Linked DNA regions of Homo sapiens: region 1 is linked to region 2. A link means that fine-mapping ties the variant in region 2 to the expression of a gene that starts in the linked region. Tissue or cell type: NK cells. Region 2 holds a variant in brackets; the other region holds the start of a gene. All regions are shown on one strand. Distances are from middle to middle.

The links. PIP is the estimated chance that this variant, and not a neighbour inherited with it, causes the effect.
Region 1: it holds the start of ADCY9, and the variant in region 2 is fine-mapped to the expression of ADCY9 in NK cells (Gilchrist 2021, PIP 0.93).

Annotation. Positions count from the first base shown.
Region 1 is chr16:4,113,331-4,121,431 of GRCh38, forward strand. It overlaps ADCY9 (adenylate cyclase 9), which reads right to left and starts at 3,112. Exons shown (of 11, transcript NM_001116.4): 1 at 2,360-3,112; 2 at 420-2,155. The coding sequence starts at 2,112. RefSeq lists silencers at 46-256, 3,250-3,319.
Region 2 is chr16:4,004,786-4,012,886 of GRCh38, forward strand. It overlaps ADCY9 (adenylate cyclase 9), which reads right to left. Exons shown (of 11, transcript NM_001116.4): 3 at 2,583-2,773. Among named protein-coding and RNA genes, the nearest start is that of TRIDDENT, 58 kb to the left of the region's middle. RefSeq lists enhancers at 6,313-6,958, 6,959-7,603. The variant T/C (reference allele first, on the strand shown) is at 4,653.

The DNA.
Region 1 (8,101 bases), 110 kb after region 2:
TTTTCGCAAAAAGGGCAGAGAGAAACATTTGGATGGGACTTCAGGGTGACCAAATGAATGCAAAGGCAATTTCCTTAAGTGCTAAACAGTGCTGAATGCTGAAGGGCTCCATACCCTTACATTCACCGGACGTGCCCCCACATTTCAGCCAACCAGTGGTTATGCACGTTCAAAGTTCTCCTTCCTTCTAAAGGTCGCGTCTAGGTCATCTCTGCACAGCGTCCCTTTCTGCAGTGTGAACAGATCTGTGATATTTGACCCGCTGAAAGAAAAGTCACACTGACCCTGAGATCCCCCCATGGTAAGGCATTCTGAGATACCTGAGCTGTCTGCAGACACTGAGGCTGGAAGCTTTTTTTTTTAATTTAATACAATCAGGATCAGGGAGGGGGGATGCCGAGGTAAAGCAGTGCACATACCTTTCAACTGGTCAGCAACCACGCTCTGGCCCAGCCGTTCAATAACTTTCCCATCTTCCATTTCGTACCGGTCATCTAAGTATTTTGCGGTGGCCTCAGAAATGTGAACTTTGCCGGCCACTCCCAGCTGCTCCATGAGATTGGCCAGGTTCACATCGTTGGACCACACGTCAAATTTAAACCTCCTCATGCCCAGGATGCCGCAAAGGACGGTGCCCGTGTGCACCCCGACTCTCATGTTCACCATCTCCTTCTTCTCCTGGCAGAACTGCTCGATGGCCTTGATCATGCCCAGGCCCATCTCGATGCAGCAGTAGGCATGGTCGGCCCGGGGCTCGGGACAGCCCGCCACGCAGTAGTAACAGTCTCCCAGGGTGCTGATTTTCTCACACTTGGTCTCCTCACACAGGCGGTCGAAGCGACCGAACAGATCGTTCAGGAGACCCACCAGGGCGTGGGCAGACTTGTTGGCACTCATCTTGGTGAAGCCCACGATATCTGCAAATAAAATACTGACTTCTTCGATCTGCTGCATCTTAAAAGGGCGGAAGGCTATAGGAGCTTTTTGGATGGAAGACTTTTTCTTCCTGTTCTTGGGGCTCGAGGTGGCATGCCTCTTGACAGAATTCTCACTCTCCTCATCTCCCTGCTTCATTAAGTCATCGGCTATGATTCTTGGCATCACGGAATGAATCATCCTCTCTTTGAGGGCTTTTTCCACTTCCAGGTCCTTCCCGTGCATAATGGATTGCCCCACCTTGAGGAAGGTGCTCCTGGACCTCACCTGGGACATGACGAACAGGTGGACCCCGATGGCGTGGATGCAGCCGTGGAGCAGCCCCCTGCTCAGCAGCTCCCAGTGCAGGGCCCCGGCTCCGGGCGAGGGGAAGCAGGCTTCATCCCGGAAATGGTAGCCAAAGGTCTCGAAAAGGACAGAGTAGGCCACCCCCAGACACAAACTCAGGTACAAAGGTAAGTGCATGACGGTATAGAGCAAAAAGAGCACTTCGATGCACATGGAGAAGCTCCCCACTTGAGATAAGCAAGTATCTGTGGGCCGGGCTGTGGCCGTAAGGTTGGAGCTGTCGCCGCGTCCTGAGACAGGCGTCAAGACCTGGAACTGCGCAGCCAGGGTCAGGGCGAACACCAGCAGGGTGAGAGCCAGCGAGGTCCACGCGTAATGCCGGGCGTACAGCTTGGTGAAGGTAAACAGAAAGAAGCCCACACACACCAGGAGGAAGCACAGCGCGGGGGCGACCATGACGATCAGTCTGGATCTCATGTGGACCGCAAAATAGATGCTCCACAGAAGGCAGGCGAAGCCGATGTAGAAGAGCGCATACCGGAACCGGCGCTGGGTCTGCGGGAAGCAGCGCTCCAGGCAGGCCTCCTCCAGGTTCACCGAGTCGAACTTGGGGTCCCACCAGCGGCTGGAGGCCCTCTCGAACAGCTGGGGCAGCTTCTTCTGCCTGCGCAGCCGGCCTCCGCCGCCCACTCGCCGGGGGACGCCCCCGGAGTCCCCAGAGCTGCTGCAGCTAGAGGAGATGCTGTATTTGCAGTGCTTGGGGTGGCTGTTGGAGGACAGCTGCTTGGGGTTGATCTTGACGCGCACGCTGTTGCTGTCCCCGCTGGAGTCGCAGCTCACCTCGGTGCTGTGGTGATGCAGCAGCTGCTGGTGGGGTGGGGAAGCCATGTTGTCGAGTCCCGGGGCCTGCCCCGGCCGGGGTCACCAGTACCTGCCAGCAAAACGGGGAGAGTTAGCGGCGCTCCCACCTAGGCATGCACGCCTAGAGGCCCGGGACCTGCTCCTGTCCTAAGGGGCGGCTCCAGCACGCGACCTGGACAGGCACCATCTGTTCCTGTGGTTCCCGGCTCAGCGGTGCTCCCACCGCCCCCACCGCCCCCACCTTCGAGGCGCACGAGAACCGCTCGGGACGGACCTAGAACGCCCGGGGGTCCCCGCCGCGTGGCCGCCGTGGCTCCGGGACCGCTTTGCTCGCTCGCCTTCCGCGCCTCTCGCCCCGAGGGTGGCCTCCGCGCCGCGCGGCTTCTCCTCCTCGCGCGCTCGCCTCCTCCAGCTGCGGCTCCGGAGGGAAGTTCAGACCTTGAGCGCTCCCAGCCCCGCGAGCCGCCTGCGCACAAACAACTCCGCTGGCGGCGCGGAGCCCTCCATCCTGCAGGAGCCGCGCTCCGATGCGTCAAAGGCGGCGCGCGGCCGGCCCCGGGCCCGGACCCCGACCCGGAGCAGCGAGCTTCGGCGGGCGCCCCCGGCTCGCGCTCCCCGGCCGCCCCCCGCGCTCCGGGCCGGCCCTGCCCGCGGCGGCGGGCGCTGGGGGTGGGGGCGCCCCGGGCTGCGAGTGCGCGGAGCCCGTCGGCGCGGCCCGTCTAGTGGGGCCTGCTTCCCCCCGAGTGCGCCGCCGCTCCCGCCGCGGCCGCAGCTGTCCCGGGACCGAGCGCGTGGAACCACGGACGCGGGCCCCTCGCCGGGCGGCGGTGCAGACGCTGCCGCAGAGCCGGGCTCCCGCGACGCCGGCCGGGACGCCCGCCCGCCCGCGCCCACGCCGGGGGCCGCCTCCCCGAGCTAGAGATGCGGCCGCCGCCGCGCCCGCCGCCGTGTCCCCCGCGGCCGCTGCCTCATGTCGGAAGAGCTGCCGCCGCCACCATCTCCGGCCCCTGCCCCGCCCGCTGTCACTGACAGACGCGCGCCCGCGCCGCCCCTCGCCCAGCCGCAGCGCGCACGCGCGGCCCGCGCTCGCCGCCACCGCCTCCTGGCCCCGGACACGCGCACGGGCCGCGCGCCGCCCCGCCTTGGTGCGCGCGCTGGGCTGGGGCTGCGGGGCGGGGCGGGGCGGGGCGGGGCGCGCGCTCGGCTCCGCCCCCCGCCCCGGGCGGCGCCGCTTCTAGGCGGCGGGCTGTGGCCGCTGTCCGCGCTCCGGGCGCTGTGGGCCCGCCCTCCCTCGGCGTCCCAGAGGCCGCGCGCCGCCCGGGGTCCCGACCCTGCGGAGAGACCTGAAGGCGCCTGCCGTGGAAGAAGCCGCTGGCCGCAACGTTTGGGAAATCAAAATGTTGCCTTCCCACTCGGCACGCCTTTGGGATAAATCGAAGTTTCCAACCGTTGGATTTCCCTCCCGGGAGGCTCCCCTTGCTCTGTAAGCAATGAATGCGGGCCCCGGGGCACTCGGCCTGCCCTGGACCTGCTCACGGGGCGACCTTCACGGGCCTAGCCTCCAAAGCTGGGCCCACCGACGACCACGTTCCCCCGCCCCAGGGGTAGTTTACCTTGCTGTCCTTGAGCCCTTCTCCCCCTCCTCATGAACTACTGCTTTTCCTTTTACACAAATGAGACTTTCAAAGGAGTCCGCGTCCCATAATGGCAGTTGTGCATTGGCCTCCATAAACATTGCCACGTGTAAATAAAATCCTATTCTCTCTAGCATGCAGATCCCGACCCCTTCTCCCCACACTCCACAGTGCCTCCTGCCAGTCACGGGGCTCTCTTCCATCCCCTCCCTCGCCTCCCAGGCCCAGCGCCGGGGCCCACACCAGGTCTCACTGTTGAATTAGAAAATAAAAGTAAAATGTGATCTGTCCATGCAATGGAATATTATTCGGCTACAAAAAGGAATGGAGCACCGATGCATGCTGCAGTGTGGAGGAACCCGGGAAACGTTATGCTAGTGAAAGAAGCCAAACAAAAAAGGCCACATAGCGTATGATTCCATCCAGATGAAATGTCTCGAATTGGCAAATCCGTAGAGGCGACACAGATTGGAGGTTGCCAGGTGCTAGGGGAGGAAGATAAGCAGCTTGGGGTTTCGTTTTAGGATGATGAAAAAGTCTAGAAATGATCCAACAGGATGAATCTACATACTGCCCTTGAATCATACACTTTAAAGTGGTTTAGGCCGGGAGCGGTGGCTCACGCCTGTAATCCCAGCACTTTGGGAGGCCGAGGTGGGCGGATCACCTGAGGTCGGGAGTTCGAGACCAGCCTGACCAACACGGAGAAACCCCATCTCTACTAAAAATACAAAAATTAGCCGGACGTGGTGGCACATGCCTGTAATCCCAGCTACTCGAGAGGCCGAGGCAGGAGAATTGCTTGAACCCGGGAGGCGGAGGTTGTGGTGAGCTGAGTTCGCACCATTACACTCCAGCCTGGGCAACAAGAGTGAAACTCCATCTCAAAAAATAATAATAAAATAAAATAAAGTGGTTTAAATGGTAAATGTTATGTTGAGTGTATTTTACCACAATAAAGGAGGAAAAAACTAAAAGCAACATATTGTGGTGGTATTCCTGCAGAAGTGTGTAATCTCAATCCAATCGCAAGAAAACACCAGACAAACCCAGATTGAGACCTGTTCTACAAAGTGATTAACCAGTACCCATCAAAAGTGTCCTTGGACACTTTGGGTCTTGAAAGACAAAGACTGAGAAACTGTCACAATCTAGGAATCGTCCCTAAGGGGATAGATACAACAACTAAATGGAACATGGGATGCTGGTTGGGAACATGGAACAGGAAAGGACAGTAGCAGGAGAGCGGGCAAAATTCACATAAGATCTGCAATTTCCTGGTTCTGATCCTCTTACTATGGTTAGGTAAGACGTTAACATTTTTAGGGGAAGCTGGGCCCTGTGCAGTGGCTCACACCTGTAATCCCAGCACTTTGGGAGGCTGAGGCAGACAGACCACCTGAGGTTAGGAGTTCAAGACCAGCCTGGCCAGCATGGTGAAACCCCCGTCTCTACTAAAAATACAGAAATTAGTTGGGCATGGTGGTGTGCGCCTGTAATCCCAGCTACTCAGGAGGCTGAGGCACAAGAATCACTTGAATCCAGGAGACGGAGTTTGCAGTGAACCGAGATCATGCCACTGCACTCCAGCCTGGGCAACAGAGCAGGACTCCATCTTGGGGGAAAAAAAATTAGGGGAAGCTGGATGTAGGATACAGGGAAACTCGCTAGTATTTCTGCAACTCTTCAAGTCTAAAACTATTTCAAAATAAGTTTATCTAAAAATTTAAAAAATAAACCTTTAATGAACATCAATTCTATGCCAGGCACTCTCACATACGAGGTTCAGAAACGCATGGTGTGTCACATGCATTCGCTTAGTAAATGGGATAACAATAGTGAACTAACATTGACCGAACACGTCATAAATGCCAGAAACTACTGGACATTTTCACCTGTGACACATTTGGTCATTGCCACAACCCTCTGAGGTAGATACTATTGTCCCTTGTTTAGAGAGGTGAAACCCAGGATTGAAGAGAAACGCACCCTAGGTCTCCCACTAAGGGTGATGAGTTCAGATGGAAAACCAGGTCTCAGAATTCTGAGGCCATGACGCCTTGTGTGACCCTGGCACTACCCTCTGCAAGCCTCACGATGGCCCAGCACAGACTGTACCTGTCTCATCCATCAGCCCAACTGGATGGGAGGCCCTCAGAGCCAGGACTCACAGCTTCCGTCTTCCCTTGCTGGCTGCAACGCTGTGCTCCCTGCTTCCTGGTTTCCTGAAACGATCTGAAAGCTTGCCTGTCTGCACTTCTTTCCTCCTCCCTAAATCATTTGTGGTAACTTATGTGTTTGTAAGTTAGTCACGTCGGATTTTTAGACACAAGTAATGGTCATACTCACCTCCCTACTTCTCTGGAAGCAATTCGGCCACATTGCCTGCTGTGGAAACCTATAAGCTGACAAGCCTCCCCAGTCTCCAGGTCAGGGAGTGAATCATGCCATCAACCCCGGGGGACTGGGGCTGTGGTGCCAGCACTGTGTGTCAGGCCCTGGAGGTACAAGGATATGCCATCCATATCTTTTCTTTTCTTTTCTTTTTTTTTTTTTTTGAGACGGAGTCTCGCTTTGTCACCCAGACTAGAGTGCAATGGTGCGATCTCGGATCACTGCAACCTTTGCCTCCCGGGGTTCAAGCAATTCTCCTACCTCAGCCTCCAGTGGAGCTGGGATTACCACCATGCCCAGCTGATTTTTGTATTTTTAGTAGAGACAGGGTTTCACCATATTGGCCAGGCTGGTCTCGAACTCCTGACCTCATGATTCACATGCCTTGGCCTCCCAAAAGTGCTGGGATTACAGGCGTGAGCCACCGTGCCCAGCCGCCATCTGTTTCTTTAAGGGGCTTAGGAACGATGTCCAGGGGAGGGGTTGGGTTAAGAAGATGGGATCAATTAGGCTTTCTGAAGGATTGGATGTGAAGGAGAGTTCTATAAAGGAGGTTAACCATCTTCTCATAATGCCAAGACCCAAAGGGAAGTCACTGGAGGGTTCTGGGTTCTTCTTGACCTCCCAGAAGCATAAAGGTACCCGATTCACAGAAGATACGGGGCAGATGCAATAGCTTTCTTCAAACATCCAATCCAGGGTGCTGCCAAATCCACAGAGAGTTTCTTTTTTCCATCTGTGATGTGTACAGAACTCCCACCTGGACACAGTGGGAATCAGAATGTGTCCATGAAAACTCTGCAAAAGCTTGCAGAATGCCTTGCCTGCCTCAGTGTCTCCTCCTCACCCTCCCTCACATGCAAATTCACATGATGGGTGAGGACCTTGGCTCCAGGATATCAGAGGTCAGACTGGGTGGCAACCATGACAGGCTTTGAGATAAGTTGCATAATGATTGAGTTGTAGCCATTCTCATCACACCGGCCCCTGAGGACTCGGCAGTGCCTACGTGATTTCATTTGTCAGGTGGACCACAATCTTGGAGAACCATCTGCTGGAAGATGGGATTCCCTGCTATGGCCTGATCATGCGTCCAAAACTGCAGTTACAAGCTTTGAGTCTTTTTCTCTTTCAACTGATGAGGGTGAGTTTGTAGGAACGTACCTGCTTTTTTTTTTTTTTTTTTTTTTTTTTTTTTGAGATGGAGTCTCACTCTGTCACCCAGGCTAGAGTGTAGTAGCATGATCTCAGCTCACTGCAACTTCCATTTCCCAGGTTCAGGCAATTGTCCTGCCTCAGCCTCCCAAGTAGCTGAGACTATGAGCATATGCCACCACACCCAGCTAATTTTTGTATTTTTAGTAGAGGCAGGGTTTCACCATGTTGGCCAGGCTGGTCTTGAACTCCTGACCTCAAGTGATCCTCCTGCCTCGGCCTCCCAAAGTGCTGGGATTATAGATGTGAGCCACACGCTTGGCCTTTACCCACATTTTTTCTCTACCATTGACTGCTGTTCACAAGCCTCCAGCAGCTACCTTCACATTGACAGGAAGATCAGGCGTCTCAGCAAAGCAAAAGATCCTTTGGAGAAGATCACCAAAATACCTGCAGGTGCCTCCATAACCAGGTGTATTCCATCTAGCCACATCCATAGATTCTACATCCAGCCATGCCCAGTTTAGAGGCCAATACAAATTCATTGAATGACTGCATATGGGAGTTATATTAATATATTTTTATTTTTTTTTAATGGGTTCAACCAGGAGGCGGAGCTTGCAATGAGCCGAGATCTCGCCACTGCACTCCAGCCTGGGCGACAGAGACTCCACCTCAAAAAAAAAAAAAAAAAAAGGTTTCAAGAAATTCTCCTGCCTCAGTCTCCAAGTAGCTGGGAATATAGGCATGCGCCCACACACCCAGCTAATTTTTGTATTTTTAGTAGAGACAAGGTTTCACCATGTTGGCCAGGCTGGTCTCAAACTCCTGAC
Region 2 (8,101 bases):
GCGTTATCAGCTGCGGAGGCACGGGAAGGCGTGGTGGAGCTGAACGGTGAATGCAGACAGGAGTTCAGGGGAAAGAGAAGCCATGAGTATCTCAAGTGAGCAGCAGCAGGAACAGGACACACGTGAAAATCTACGCATGCTCCTTCAGGGAACGTTTCCTGAACACCTTTTCTCTAATGTATTGGTCCTTGGCATGAAACTCCTTTTACTACATGAGCATTCCCCCAAAAGGTGTGACCACATTAGCCCTGCAAGGTGCAGCTTGAAAAAAAACAATTGTGCTCAAAGAGGCCTGAGAATGCTGTATATACCGCGTCCTCCTCTGAAGGCCTAGCTACTGTCTACTAGCCTAGTGAAGGCTCCGAGAAGTCCTGCAGTAAAGAAACCCTTTCTGTGTTGAATATCCCAAGCTTCCCGAATTTACTTTACCACTGAGCACCCTCCTCCCTTTTTTTGGAGACAGGACAAGGTCTCACTCTGTGGCCTAAGCTGGAGTGCAGTGGCAAAATCATAGCTCATGCAGCCTAAATTCCTGGGCTCAAGTGATCCTCTTGGCTCAGCCTCCCAAGTAGCTGGGACCGCAGGCACAGGCCACCAAGCCCAGTTAATTTTTAAAATTTTTTTGTAGAGATGATGTCTTGCTACGATGACCAGGCTGGTCTGGAAATCCTAGCCTCAGGCATCCCTCCCACCTCGGCCGCCCACAGCACCAGGATTACAGGCGTGAGCCACCATGCCCGGCCTTCTGTCAACTTGATAGATCACAAGATTCTCAGAAACTTTCAACAATATTTGGAAAATCTCCACATGCCAAGAAGATACGCTAAATGGTTTTTGCTCATTCCGACCAAAACAAATATATATGACTAGAGTGCAATGTAGTGTAGAATCGCCATTGCTAAAACCGTGGTCACTAAACCCGTGAGCATGTGATATGGTGAACTCTGCGACCGCATCCCCTAACGGACAGAAACACACATATGTGGAAGCTAAAATGGCAAACACAACGAATTATATATTTTTGGCTCGGGGCTGTCTTTCACGACTTAAATACAGCTCAGTTTGCAGGCTGGAGGAAACAATTCTTCCCCAAATAGCAAAACCATTCCCGATTCCACCCCACGCCAGCCCCTCCCTGCCCGGGTCCGCTGTCTAGGAGCCCAGAGCTCCATTTTCTGACTCCTGCACAACGTCAGCCCAGGCAAGGCGGCTGTCTCTAAAGTTTGCAGGCATCCAGGGAATCTCAGATACATGAGCTTTACACATGTGCCAAGAGTACAGGGAAGAGAGGGTCCAACACCACTGTCCCGGTGGTTTTCACCCAGGGGTGACTCTGCACCCCCAGGGGACACTGGGCCATGTCTGGAGACATTTTTGGTTGGCACAGCTGGGGAGTAGGGTACGGGTGGGTATGCTGCCATCTGGCAGGTGGCGGCTAGGGATGCTGCCAGCCATCTGACAGTGCACAGGACAGCCCCACAACACATGACTACCTGGTCCAAAATGCCAGCGGTGCCAAGGTGAGAAGCCCTGCATTACACTAACAAAGCACCCAACGACCGCGATCCACGAGCGGAGTTGACAGAACCCGAGTGCAATCATTACGTGTAACTGGGCGACAGGCACTATGTATTCTGACCCAGTAAGTAATCTGCATACCCCAGCTGACTGCCACATAATGAAGACTGTTCCTCGTAAATACCAATAGCGGCTTTCAAACCTGTGAATGAATGTGGAGAGGCAGGGACGTATTGGGTGAAGCTGTAACCACTGGCCGCCATCCTCACACATACCCCACTGTGTTATCTGAGAACACAAAGCAGCATAGGAGAGCTGTTTTGATTCTCTGTCTCATTTTAAGAATGGAGACAGTAGATGTTTAAACTATAAAAATAAACAGAAGGTACCAGTGGGGAAACTAAATCAAATGTGAAAGCAAAGGAACAGCTCATAAACTGAAATGATTTCACACACCCAAGGTCGACCGCGCCAATTCCCTGGTAGTTTATGATGACAGGTCAGTCCAGAAACGGGCACTTCTAGGCAGCTACCAGGAGATCCCGGTTCCAATAATGAAATACTACAATGTTCTCGGCAGCCTGTCCTCTCAGTGAGCTGTGTCCTAGGATTCACCCACACCAACATCATTTCAAGTAATCATAAAATAGTGGATTTCAAGAGACGTAGAAGTATTTGAGAAAGTGGTCTCTGAAATCAGATTATCAACTAGCTCTCCACCCAAGGTGCCAAGGAAAGCCACCTTTACTGTCATTTATCACCAGCTTCTAGAAATCCCAAAAGGCACCACAGGTCCCAGGAAGAGAAAATAACTAATAATTCAAATGAGAAGCATCCTTGTGCAATGGAAAGGCAATGGAGGTGCGTCATATGTCAAAAAGCAAGGATGTTAAAAATGCAGAATGCTACTAACTTTAGACTAAATATTAAAATCGTGAAAACCAAATCGAAGGTCATTCCAAGTTGTTTGCCTCAGACCTGGAGGCTGCTTATTATTTCACGTGCTCTACTGCAGAATTAATAGAAAGTTTTAGAAGTAGGAAAAAAAAAACAAAAAAACTAACCTTAAGGTTATCAAAGGTTTTGACAGTCTGCGCCAAGTCACTGACATTCCCTGATGACGCTGTCCCCTGTCCCCTAGGGCCTGAGGACACCTGTGAGCCGTCAATGACCTCAAAGCCAGAAAGCAAGGCCTCTGCACAGCTGCAGCGAGACTCCTTGGCTCTCTGACCCGATATCAGGTATGTCTTCAAACCTATGATGGATAAAAGTTACAGTCAGCACAGATTGAAAGCACCGTCTGTTGAAACGCAGCTCCGTCTTGCTCTCTGGAGAGGACTCACTCCTGGAAAGTTGAGAGTAAAGTGAAAATGTGAATAGGTCATAGTTTACGACGGACGTCCACGATCTCTCCAGAGAGATGCGGCCTCAGGGAGACCGTGGGCCCCCGAGACACACCACTCACCCACGTTACGTTTTCTTGGAGTAATGGCTGCATGTTTCATGTTTTACCTTCAGGGTTAAAATAAGCATTAAAAAGTTCCTCCATGAAAGGGTCCCAGGACCTCCCCGTGAAGGCAGCAAAGCAGATTGGTTGACCCTAGACACTGCTTTGGTTTATTTCCATCTGTGAATACCAGTCCAGTGAGTACCTTCCTAACGGTCAGTCTAGACGTCATGGCAGCTTCCGGTACTGACCATCTTACCTGTGTCAGAGGCTGCAAAACTACCCCGAAAAACAAGACCCTACCAGGGACCAAGAGGCCATTAAAACCTCCCCAGACTCAGAGCTGTTGAGCATCTATTTCCTGTTGGATTCAAACACTCACCCCAGGAACATTCAGCTTTTGTTAAGCTGAGGTCCACATGCATTTTATTGTCTCACAAAATCCCGCATATAGAAAAAAAAAAAAAAGGTGGTCAAAAGGACACTTGACCTGTATCTTTACAATTCTCCTTTGAGGCTGAGCTAACAGCCGGACCCACACTGCGCTGGAAGGAGCTGTGAACAGGTGGGTGGATCCTGCCCCGGGAATCTGCTGGGAAGATGGCAAAGGAGCAGCTTTTCTAGAAAGAGCCCAAGGAATTTTTGAAAAAGAAGCAAACTTTATTTAAAGAAATCCATCCTTTGACTTCACTGGAATTTAACCAGATGGCAAATGTATCGGAAGGAGGGACAATGTAATTTAACATTTAAATAACATTTATTTCAGGCCTAGTGTATGCCACACACCGAGAATAAAATCATGAACAAAGCAGGGTCCCTTCTTTTTTTTTTTTTTAATTGAGATGGAGTCTCACTCTCTCACCCAGGATGGAGTGCAATGGTGCGATCTCAGCTCACTGCAGCCTCCACCTCCTGGGTTCAAGCAATTCTCCTGACTCAGCCTGTGAGCAGGCAGGTGTCCACCACCACGCCTGGCTAATTTTTGTATTTTTAGTAGAGACAGGGTTTCTCCATGTCGGCCAGACTGGCCTAGAACTCCTAGTGATCTGCCCACCTTGGCCTCCCAAAGATGACAGGTGTGAGCCACTGCACCCGGTCGCAGGGACCCTTCTTGAAGGGTTTAAGCTCCAGCTTCAGGTCGTGAAGGGTGTGGCATGGAAAGATGCCATCGAGAGGCGACGTGTCTACAACACTGATCGACTCTGGCTTCTTACGCTGGGTACATATTTGGTCAGCGCTTTAAAATTAATTAATCAGAAACCTAGGGACTACTTCATCAATAATCCCGAATCATTTTATAAGTATGGCCCCATCTCATCACTTCACCTCCCTCTCTCCTTGTAAAAATACTACGTGGCTAATCTTTTTAAGTCAACTGTTCTGAGAATTTGCCAAGAGTCCTAGAAACACGTAAAGACAGCCTAGAACGTAGCCAGGTCATAGCTGAGAATCAAAAGACTTAGATATTTTTAGATGCCAACTGGCCCCAAGAAACTCTTCATGTTTTGTTTTGTTTTGTTTTGTTTTGTTTTTCCTTTAGAGATAGGGTCTTGCTCTGTTGCCCAGGCTGGAGCGCAGTGGTGCAACCATGGCTCCCTACAGCCCCCACCTCCTATAGCCTCAGCCTCCTGAGTAGCTGGGACTACAAACGTCCGCCACTATGTCCAACTATTTCTTTCTTTCTTTT[T/C]TGAGATGGGGGTCTCACTGTGTTGGCCAGGCTGGTCTCGAACTCCTAGACTCAAGTGATCCGCCCATCTTGGCCTCCCAAAGTGCTGGGATTGCAGGTGTGAGCCACCACACCTGGTCCAATGAAAATCTTTCACTCTTACTTAGCTCCTGAACTTTTGTGCATTTTTTTCTCCAACAAAAACCCACATCCCAATTTATGCACAGGATCAATCACGACTGTAACATGTATACACTGAAATGGAAACGTGAACTGGAATACGACGCAGGAGTGAAGCCATCTTTATACTAATTTCTCGGACCTGTCCCAGGCGACACCAGACTGACTTTGTAACTTCACTTTGCCAGAGTTAAAAAATGCAACCTATGTGGACTCAAGAGAGGACAATGAGCTGCCAGGGCTTATACCCGCCTTCATCAAAGAAGTACACGCAAGGAGGCCTGTCCTGGGGCTGCTCTAAGGGTCTCCTTCCCATGACTCCTGAGTGTGGCCCACAAGTCACCAGGTGGCAGGGTGGTGACAGGAGCCACTGACAGCCAGTGTGACTGTGGATGGCCACTCTGGAGACCGCAGTCCCCACATACTGAGAGAGGAGGGACATTTTTTTGATGGGAGGTAGGAAAAGTTGCGGCTGAAGGATGAGGTTTTCCATTATGTCTGTGGCTGGCCCTGCAAGGTGCTGTTGGCTCAGGGTGCCCCTGCCTGAGGCTACGGCTCCCCATGCACAAGGGCTGCCCTGGGAGCATGAACTGGGCTGCCTCTGAAACCCAGGAAGGGGCCCTCACCCAGGTGACTGCGCACCTGCTCCCTGTGTGGCTCCGGGACTGCAAGAGAAAGTCAAGATGGCCTCTCCTAGAAGTGCGTGGCAACTGAAGCTGAGAGAGGCTGAGCAGGGAGGCCTGAAGAGCTGGAGCACGACGGGACAGCCAGCACATTCACAGCGCTCAGCACGGCAGTCCACGGGGAGCACGGAGTGGCAGCGGCGGCCTCTGCTCACAAGCTGGGCACGTGCCTCAAGCACATCTCCAACGTCTGCTGTTGCTTTTTTGTACTGGGATTACTGAGTCACTCTTAATTCATCAAACATTTATTAAGCACTTCCTGTTTACTACACACTGATGGGTGCAGGGACGATGTGTGACTATTTTGGCCGAGATCGTGACCTGTGTGGAGCCCATTACCTGAAGAGGGGCCAAGAGGACAAGCAGGTATGACTATGGTCAGGCGTGCCAAGTCCCAGGACAAGGAAGGACGGGTGCTCCAGGAAGCACAGGAGGGGGCATCTTGAGAAGCCTCAGGAAGGAAGGGGCTGTGGCTCGAACGTGTCCCCTCCAAAGTTCAGGCGTTGTGGAGTGAGAGTCTTAAGGAAGCAGGGCTTTAAGAGGTGACGAGGCCAGGAGGGCTCCTCCCCTGCGATGGGATCAGGCGCCTGCATAAAGGGGCTTGCTGTAAGGGGCTCTCTCGCTTGCCCTCCAGTTTCCTTCTCCCTTCCAGAAGATGCAGCCCTCCCCAGACACCTGAACCTGCTGGTGCCTTGATCTTGGACTTCCCAGCCTCCTGAAGCATGAGGACAGAAATTTCCGTGCTGTATAGATTACCCAGCCTATGCTGTTCTGTTATTGCTTCACAAGCAGATGGAGACGGACGGATCAGCACCCTCCACACGGAGAACTGAAAGACGGGGCGAGGTCAGCCCGGCAATAGCAAACCAGGCCAGGGGCGGGGGTGGCTGACACCAGGCAGGGGGGTTACTAGAACAGGTCATGAAAGGCCCTCTACAGAGGTGGCCTGCAGCAGGCATAGCTAAAGGATGGCTTGGAGCTCAGTGTGGCTGGAGCAGAGAACGTGTGGAGGGAATGGCCAGGGCTGAGCCACAGCACCTGTGCAGGGCACTGTGTGGGCCATCCTGGGAAGCCTCCATTCTGGGGCCACGGGCAGCAGGGGGGCGGGAGGAGAAAGAAGAGCCACATAGGAGGCATGAGGCGTAGGACAAGCCAGGGAGCCGGTGGAAATGCCAGCCACAGCGGGTGGGAAGTTGGGAGGCACGGGAGTCAGGAAATAACAGTGGAAACGGGAAACCTACTCCCCACAAACTGCTGGCGAGAGGCAAGGCTCCCATTACAAGCAACCAAGCGTGATGGGCGAGGGCCTGGCTGCTGGAGGGGGCCTCGGAGTCGGGTCCAGGTCCGCCCCCTAATCCCGTGATCTAAGTGAGCTGCTTCATCTCTGCCTCTCAGTTTCCTCATCTCTAAGGGGAGGGCAGGAGCAGAGCTAGTGAGCTGCTTCATCGCTGCCTCTCAGTTTCCTCATCTCTAAGGGGAGGACAGGAGCAGGGCTAGTGAGCTGTTTCATCGCTGCCTCTCAGTTTCCTCATCTCTAAGGGGAGGACAGGAGCAGGGCTAGTGAGCTGCTTCATCGCTGCCTCTCAGTTTCCTCATCTCTAAGGCGAGGGCAGGAGGAGGGCTTACCACACAGCTCGCATGTGAGGCTTAAATGATCAACACGCACGCAGCAAGCACTCGACATTAGCTGTGATTATCGACGCAGTGTTTGATCTGCGTATCACTGGAATCTTTTTCATGCACCTTCTACATACAAAAGCATTTGCAAAACTGTTAAATCAATAATTGCTCCTGATTTGTTTCTGACTTGAGTTTTTCTTTAGGAAGCGCTGAATGACCAACCCATAGTGATAACATGATCCTACTAGCTTTACGAAGGTCAAACACACCTCCGTGTCCACAACGAGCAAAATCGGGAAGTAAATTATCTTTTTATTTATGCTTCAATATGGAAAGCTAAATTTAAAGTGAAACCTTTTGTCAGAACCAGAAGGGTTATCACCCTGACAGGTAAGGCAGAGCCCAGCTGCCTAATCACAAACGCCTGAGAAATACATCAGGACAGGTTACTGAGTTCAAGCCCAGCGAAAGTCTTAAGTCAGGAGACTCTGCAGGCGACATGATTTAATGAATAACCACACACATGGACCCTGGGGTCCAAGTTCATTAGAATGGCTCTTTTGCAGCAGAAGGTCCAAAAAAAAAAAAAAGACAGCTAAATGATTTAAGTGTAGTGTAAACAGGAGAATAATTAATATGATTTCTTATATTCTTTCCTGGTTATCCATTGATTTTAAACCTCAACAACAGCGATGTCTTTTATCAGCTTAATTTTACAAAGGCTACAGAGAGGGGTGGGCATTTCCTAATGGGCTCCTGTCTGACGGGGGAATTTGTCTATGGCTGTGTGCGTGGAGGTTAACGCAGTTAACGTTCTTAAGTATTCTTAAGTATAGTGTCACTTCTTTGAAAACTAAAACTGCACTTTGCACATAGTGGTGATCAGGTTTGGTGACCCAAGTATAGGAAGAGTGACTGACAAAGCCCATTTTGGAAAAGAGTGATGGGCGAGGCCCATTTCTGGCCTCATTTGTCCCAGTCTCTTTC